Homo sapiens: one gene and its partner. The protein of the gene in region 2 purifies or fractionates together with the protein of the main gene of each other region. This does not show direct contact. Each region holds a gene or a part of one and is shown on either strand. Other genes may lie near its edges.

Region 1 (4,235 bases), on a different chromosome or scaffold from region 2:
CAGAGGGCAGAGGTGGAAGAGGGATTTTGGGGTTGACTGAGAGTGGCTGGTGTGGCTGGTGTCTATCTTCCTTCCCTGGAAAGTTTGCCCAGAGCCTGCAAGTTTCCTCAGGAGACAAGCAATGTTATAATGCGAATAACATCTAACATTTGTTCAACACTTGCTATGGACCATGCATGTTTTATGTCTTTTTTTTTTTGAGGCAGGGCCTCACTCTGTTGCCCAGCCTGGAGTGCAGTGATACAATCACAGCTTACTGCAGATATGACCACCTGTGCTCACACAATCCTCCCACCTCAGCCTCCTGTGTAGCTGGGACCAGGCACGTGCCGCCAGGCCCAGCTAATTTTTTAATTTTTTATAGAGATGGGGTCTTGCTGTGTTGCCCAGGCTGGTCTCAAGCTCCTGGCCTCAAGCAATCCTTCCACCTTGGCCTCCCAAAGTGGGCCACTGCACTCAGCCATGTTTTATAAGCCTTCACATGAATTGTGTTGTTTAATTTTATGTAGCATGACGGAGCCACTCTAGGGAACCCCTGGACTCTGGGTACTTTGTGCTAACTCTGTCTGCTCCCCAGCTCACATCTGCCTCCCTGTCACTAACCTCCTCCTATTTTCCACTCCGCCTAGTCTTCTCGGTCCCAAAGCCTGCATGGTAATTTCTAGCTCTGCTTTTCCATCTCAAGCTCTCAATCTCCAGCTCTCTATTTCATTTCCATCCTCCTGGGGCAATGCTGCTTCAGACCATTCTGCCAGTAATGATTTCCCATTGTCCAACTCTGGAAGCTTCTCATTGGCTCTAGGGCTCTTCTACGAACCACCTCCTCCTATGGGCACCAGCAGCTAAATCACATTTGAAAAATAAAATAATAACAAATAATAACACTGCATATAAAAACATAAGTGGCCAAGACATAGACAAATAACTTTTTTAAGTGCTGTGTCTACAGAGACACAGCTGGGAAGTTTACAAATGGGCCCACCGAAACGTATTGTTTCCTGTTTATGCACTGAGTCCAGAGGTTTGCGTTACTAAATTCTAAGTGAAAAAGAGTTTAAATGAGGCCATGATGTGGGATAACAGCAAATTAAAATCTTGCCCTTTTCCTTGGTTCCTCCCTTTGGTTAGCTCAACTGCAAAGTTAGTGTTGACTTTGTCATCTTCTAAAATTCCACCTCTGTGGGTGCTTGTATTTCTGGAACGTTCACCAAAAATAATAAGTTTGAACTCTCTCCCCTGGTGTTAATTCTGGGTTGTTTGGAACCCAGTTTATCTGAAGGAGTCGGTCTCTGGACTTTCTAGTAAAGGGTGAGCATAGATGTGTGGAAAAGGGGGTGCTGTTCCTTTAAATTCTGCAAGTGAACTTGACTCAGGAAGGCCAGCGGCTCAAGGTCCAGCCCCTGGAAGAGAGAATAGCTACAGATTCTCCATCCTCAGTCTTTGCAAGGCGACAGCTGTGCCAGCCGGGCTCTGGCAGGCTCCTGGCAGCATGGCAGTGAAGCTTGGGACCCTCCTGCTGGCCCTTGCCCTGGGCCTGGCCCAGCCAGCCTCTGCCCGCCGGAAGCTGCTGGTGTTTCTGCTGGATGGTTTTCGCTCAGACTACATCAGTGATGAGGCGCTGGAGTCATTGCCTGGTTTCAAAGAGATTGTGAGCAGGGGAGTAAAAGTGGATTACTTGACTCCAGACTTCCCTAGTCTCTCGTATCCCAATTATTATACCCTAATGACTGGTGAGTACCATGTCCTCTTCTGGGCAGGGAGGGGAGGGCTGGCATCCAGCAGGGAACAGTGAGCTCCTGGCATTGGAGTCTTATTTAAATGCTCTGGATTCTCTAGTCCTTTGGGACATCAAAGGTAGATAAAAAAAATCTGTGTTCTTGGCTGAGAAGACTTTTGTTTTCGTGGCGGTATTGTTTCCCAAAAGTTATCCCAAGGACCTGTTTTGGATTCTCAGTGCGGAGGACAGAGAACTATAGCAGTACATGATATTTGACGATATTAAAAGTGGTCGTTTATTTTAGAAAGAGAAATTCTAATGAGGCTCATATTTTCTAAGTTCAAGTCTGCAAAAGCAACAGGTGTCCGTGCATGTGTCCCAAACTCCTTCTGTCCCTTTTCTCTGTGGTCATGTCATCCTGGCACCCTGTGGGCTTGTTTCTCAGTGTGTTGGACTGTGAAAGTACCTGTGGGGTCCTCAGAGGGGAGTGGTGCTCCCGGATTACTTGGGGAAGGGGGGATGTTTAGGTCATATCCTTCCCTGTGACTTAGCAATGCCACCTTCCCCTTCTTTTGCCTTTTTGGCCAGGTAAAATGATACGGAGAAGAAAAAGCTTGTGTCGTTCAGGTTCCCCATTTGTGATTTGCAGCATCTACAAAAGACCAACCAGCAAAAACTCCACAAAACAAACAAAAACCTCGGCTAACCCAGACTGCCTGGGCTTGGGATAGCTGATTTTCCTAAGGACGGCCTTCATCTGAAATTGCCAGGACTCCAAACGCGACTGCATGAACCTGAGCCTCTATCCGTGCGATAATAGAATGTGCAGCCCTCTCTCTGCTCACAGAGTTGGATTCCCAGTTTCTGGTTTGTTTTTCAGCTATAACCTTTGTAAAGGCAGCGAGAGGCTCTCAGAAAGAATTTAGCAAACTATCCAGGGAGGCTGCTAAGAATGCACTGTTATTGCTGGTTATGCGGGACTCAGCTATGCACTCTGAGCACAGAGAGAGCTCTGCTAATTATGTTAACAGAAAGAAAATGAGATCTCTGATATCTCATGGACCTCCACAGAACACTAAAGCCAAAAGAGTCTAAAACAGACATTTATATCTCTGACTTTGTGCATAGATACTATATACACATGTACGGAAAAATGCCATAAACTGATGCCCCAAACTGAAGGGGAGAGATACTTCGGAGAAATAAAAATGAGGGCATGAGAGAGAGAAAAAAATCAGACTGCACACAAGCAAGGAAGTTATGTATTTGTTTTTTATTTCCCCCAGCAGACAAAAAAACAGTCTCTAAGATAAACAGAATTAACAAAATTCTCTGGCCCTCCCCTGGCATGTGTCTCCCCTTGCAGGGAAGCAGTTTGCAGGCTGCCGGCTCTCACATAGACGTGATTGTGTGGACAGCCGACTCCAGCTCTGTGCAGCGGCTTCACACACACAGCCCACCCCCACTCCAGCTGTCTTTCAGAGCCTTGCCAGGGGACCCAATTCATAAACTGCCACGCCACGTGCAGCTTCTGCAATCTTAGTGGAAAATGAACAAAATCCATCTTAGAAAGGACTCAAGTAAGTAAAAGGACCATTACAGACTCCACAGAGACACTAAGCCAATGACATGGCCTTTTGTTTGTCAGATCCACACTCCTGATATTGGCACAAGGAATAATTTGCACACAGCCTCCGTCATGCTGAGACACACCTTCTTTTCCGGCTGTGGGTGTTTTCCCTTGTGCTGTCCTGAGAGAAGGGCCCCTTCCTTTATGGGCAGCACAGGTCCCGTGAGTGTCTGACAAAGATCTCACCCTTGCTTTCAAACTGAGGCTGGCCCGAGGAAGCCACAGGTCTCCATATGTGTTAAGTCTCTGTATTTTCAGATGGCCAAATGTATTCACTGATGTGGAAGTCTGCTTGGTCTATATGTTTCATAGAAGCTACCCTGCACAAGGGAGGGATCTAGCAAGGCTCATGTTTCTGTACAAATGTCCTTGGGTATGATTTGTCTTGTACCTACTGGGCAGACTTGCAGACTTGAAGCAGAATTCGCAGGCTGGGAAATGCCAGGCCATGAACCTGGTATCACCTCCACTGTCTTGGAACTGACTCAGAGTTAAATTTAGACTATTTTCCCCAATACCCATACTTATTTTTCCACCTGATGCTGAAAACCTCCTCTTTTACTCATATAAAGAAGGATATAGCCATTGGGAATTGTAGCTAAACATATGGTTTGAGCATTTGAGCATTTTATGAACCAACAAAATTGCTATGCTAGATCTTTTTGGAAGCAAAAGATATGCTGTTTTAGGGTTCCTCAGCATTCACAAGAGAGGCTAAGCTCTCACTTCATTACCCGAATTATTGCTCAGAATACAGAAAGCCCTTGGTGTTCTTCCCTTTGCATAACGAGGAGTGATGAGTTGTTGGAAAGAATGCTGGCCCTTGAGCTGGGAGAACTTGCTTGGAGACTTCAGGCAAAATAAAATGAGATGAACTGCCGGGGCTGC
Region 2 (3,500 bases):
TATAGTACTGCAACAACTTTTCTCCATACGTTATAGGTCCCCTCTAGTCTCTTTTTCTCCAGACAAGCAAGAATGGTCTTATATCTCAAATGGATTATTTATTTACAGGGTGGTGAGAGGGGTGAGAGGCAGTTGAGTGTGGTTATAAAAGGTCAACACGAGAGATCCTTATAGTGATGATGCTGTTCTGTATCTTGTGTCAGGGGAAACTGGACAAATTGTGGTACACTGGGATTATTTCTTGCAACTGCATATGAGTATACTTTTATCTCAATAAAATTTCAGTGAGAAGAAGACTACTATCCTGTTTGAAACTCTTCAGTGCGTTCTTCTTCCTCTTAGAATAAACACTAAAGTCCTTCATGTGGTGTTCTGTGATCTGCATCATCTGGCTTACCTCTCCAGCCTTGTTTATTTGATACCAGTTTCTTACTAGCTGTCTGTGTTCCAGACACACTGACCTTCTTTCACTGTCTTTAATATGCCGGGTTCTTCTCACAGCTTTCCTTCTGCCCAAGATATTGTTAGGATGTCACAAGATACCCAGCATTTCTTTTTATAGCAACCATAATTTCTATACACACGTTTATTTGTGTGGTTATTTAATTCATACCTTTACTATACTCCCTGGGGGCAGGGTCTGTGTCTTTATCCCCAGCACACAGTACATGTAAGAAATGAAAGACACTGTTTTTCTCTGTCAGCCCTTTCTGTCTTATTGGCATTTCAGGAGGACCTTGGATACACAGGCCAGGAGAGTAAGGTCCTAATCCAGAAATCTAACTTAGGCTTTCCTCTCAGACCATGAGTTTGAATTTCTCTCATATTGAGAGATACGATACCCTATCTAAAAATGAACTCTTTCAGGTCACAGGGGCATTTATTAGAGGAGGGACAGAGTATGACTGAGCAAGGTGAGTACTCTTATCCTGATGTCTGAATCTACCAAAGATCCACCTCAGGCTCTGGCTTGCTGCTATCTGGGAGAGGGCTAGCTTTGGATATTTGGGTATGTGGAGTTAATTAACTTGGAGCTGAAATTCATCGGCTTTCTGAAGGATCATGGCTCTTTTCATTGGGGTGACAGAATCCTATGTTGCCATACGGAGTCTTGGCCTACCAAAAGTAATGTCTCAGTTGTATGAGTGTGGGTGTATGATTTGGTGACTAGGAATTGCTAGTGTTCTTAGTTGTGAACAATAGAATCTACCCCAGGTAGTTTAAATAAATAGTAGGAGGTATTGGTTAGCATTTACAATTTTTGCACATGGAATTTCTGGAAAGACCAGACAATTAATCTTGGAATCTGACACAGGTGGAAGCAGTGCAATCAGGAGAAATGCTCAGTGACACTGAAGGACTGTTTGGGCAGAGGGCCACGGCTGCTGCTGCTCGCCGTGAAGTTAGAGATCAGACATCAGAACTTCTGCTAAGTTGCTGCGGAAAAACCATATGCCTTCCTGACTGACTGTGTTTGATACAAGAGCTCTGGCTTTCAAATTACAGTGTGCCACTTCAGGCTCTCAAGTCCTGCACAGGTGTACCTGCTTGGTAGAAACTGTGTCACATGTGAGACCTCGGCTGCAGGGGAATCCAAGAAATACAATTTTTTTAGCTCTCCAGTCTAGTGTGCAAGAAAGTGTGCTAGAACCCGATGCTATGTGAGCTATTCTTCCTTGTCTGCTATAGAAGGTTAAAGGTTGACAGACTTCCTTTGCCAGTGAATGTTTTACTTGAATTTAGTGCAAATGATTGAGCTTGGTACTACCTATTAGGAATTTAACATGGAAATATATAATGTGAAACAACGTCATGATGTTCCTTTAGATTTTCAAGTGGTGGATTTTGCCTGTACTGAGTTATGTAATTTATAAATCTATATGGTTTTGCATAATAGCCATATATTCGCATACTCATTTGTGGAATGTTGTTATGACCACCAATTGTGGATTATCTCGTACTAACATGAGACCTAGTCATACAACATAGCCTAAGACAGTCAGATCAGGGAGCTCACAGACTTGATGTGGTAGTGTTTTTCAATAGAAGTATGCATTAAAATCAACTTGTTAACAAATGTAAGTGTGGGACTCCAAGTTTACATGTGTAGTGTCTGCCACATCCACCAGCATTAAGTTCCCAAAGGAGGAAGGTATACAGAGAGTCAAGGGATTTGCTTTTTTAGCACACTTTCATGTCAATTCTTAATGGTTCTTCCTTGGTGAAGAACCACTTATTCAGTGGGTCAGTAGTAACCATTTTATTTTGTTGTTGTTGAAAATGTTGGACTGTGTTTAAATTTGCAGCCATTATTTCCTACTTTAAAGAGTTTTGAAAATGGATGCTTCTTTTACAGGGGCAGAGTTACCAGGGCAGGTTATCTCCATGGCAGCTTCTACTCTGGCAAACTTGGCCATCTCTATCACAGGGTATGAATCAAGCAGTGAAGACCAGCCCTCCACTCAGCCTGCAGGTGACTGATGTTCTGGTGACATTCAAGGTTATTCTGGAAAATGAAATGTACATAGAAAGTAAAATTCAGGACACCAGCATCACAAAATGCTACTTACTCCTGCTGATCCTTCATTTATTCTCTTTGGTTCCTATTTTTATGCCCTTTTCCCTCTCATCTTTGTTCTCATATATCACTTTTTAAATACATGTAATTATGTAACTTCTTGAGTTTCTTACCTTGGTTCTTTGTTCTTTCCTTTTTAAAAAAGGCTTTTCTTATTTTTCTTCTGTTATTCATTGCTTTTGTTTTTCTTATTTTCCTTTTCTCCGTCTCCATTTACCTTTCCCACATTTCCCTCCACTTTACGCATATCTTATCTTGATTTCTTATTTTCCATTTCTTTCTTCTACAACTGTCAGTTCTCCTCCATGATTTTATTTTGCCCTATCTCTTCCTGTTGTTTTTTCTTTCTTTTGTTCCCTTTTCCCAACCCTTTTTTTGGGGAAGACTTTTATTTTCCATCTTGCAGTCATCCATTTCTCTGTCATTCTTTCTCTGAAAGTTTGCATGCTTCATGTGTTAATATATTGACCCCTCAAACAGACCCCTCTGGTTGTTTTGGACTCGTTGTCCTGTGTGGCCTGGCTTTGGGAATTGCAGGCTCCTGAGGAATCCAGCTGGTAGATATACCAGCTGTAGAGTCATGCTGTACTCTTGCAGAGTTCCAGAATGTAAAAGGCCACCTTAGTCTGTGCTGAGAGATCCATTAGTGCCAGAGGTATTTGGAGTTAGGGAATATTTAGAGTGAATTCTCCTTGAAGAACTGACTTTAGAAATGTCAGCTAAGATAAAGGAATTTGGTGTAGTAGGAACACTTATTTTTCTTGCACATGGAATTATGTTTCCAAAGTGGAGAGGAAATGATATTTTGGTTTTGGACTCATTCTTCCAAATATCTGTCACACCCACCATCATGAAGTTTCCAAATTAGAAAGATAACTCAGAGCAAAGTCAAACAAAAGCATCTGTTAACTAGCTTGGGCTT

Evidence for each region. Proteins that work in one complex are often made in the same cells at the same time.
Region 1: the proteins of TMEM245 (region 2) and ENPP6 purify together in Homo sapiens (co-immunoprecipitation; one large-scale study listed by IntAct). This does not show direct contact.

The regions. Positions count from the first base shown.
Region 1 is NC_000004.12:184,215,074-184,219,308, reverse strand, and holds the start of ENPP6 (glycerophosphocholine cholinephosphodiesterase ENPP6 precursor), read left to right. Parts: upstream 1-1,435; 5' UTR 1,436-1,489; coding exon 1,490-1,730; intron 1,731-4,235. UniProt on the Homo sapiens protein: Choline-specific glycerophosphodiesterase that hydrolyzes glycerophosphocholine (GPC) and lysophosphatidylcholine (LPC) and contributes to supplying choline to the cells.
Region 2 is NC_000009.12:109,092,448-109,095,947, reverse strand, and holds part of TMEM245 (transmembrane protein 245), read left to right. Parts: intron 1-2,356; coding exon 2,357-2,473; intron 2,474-3,500.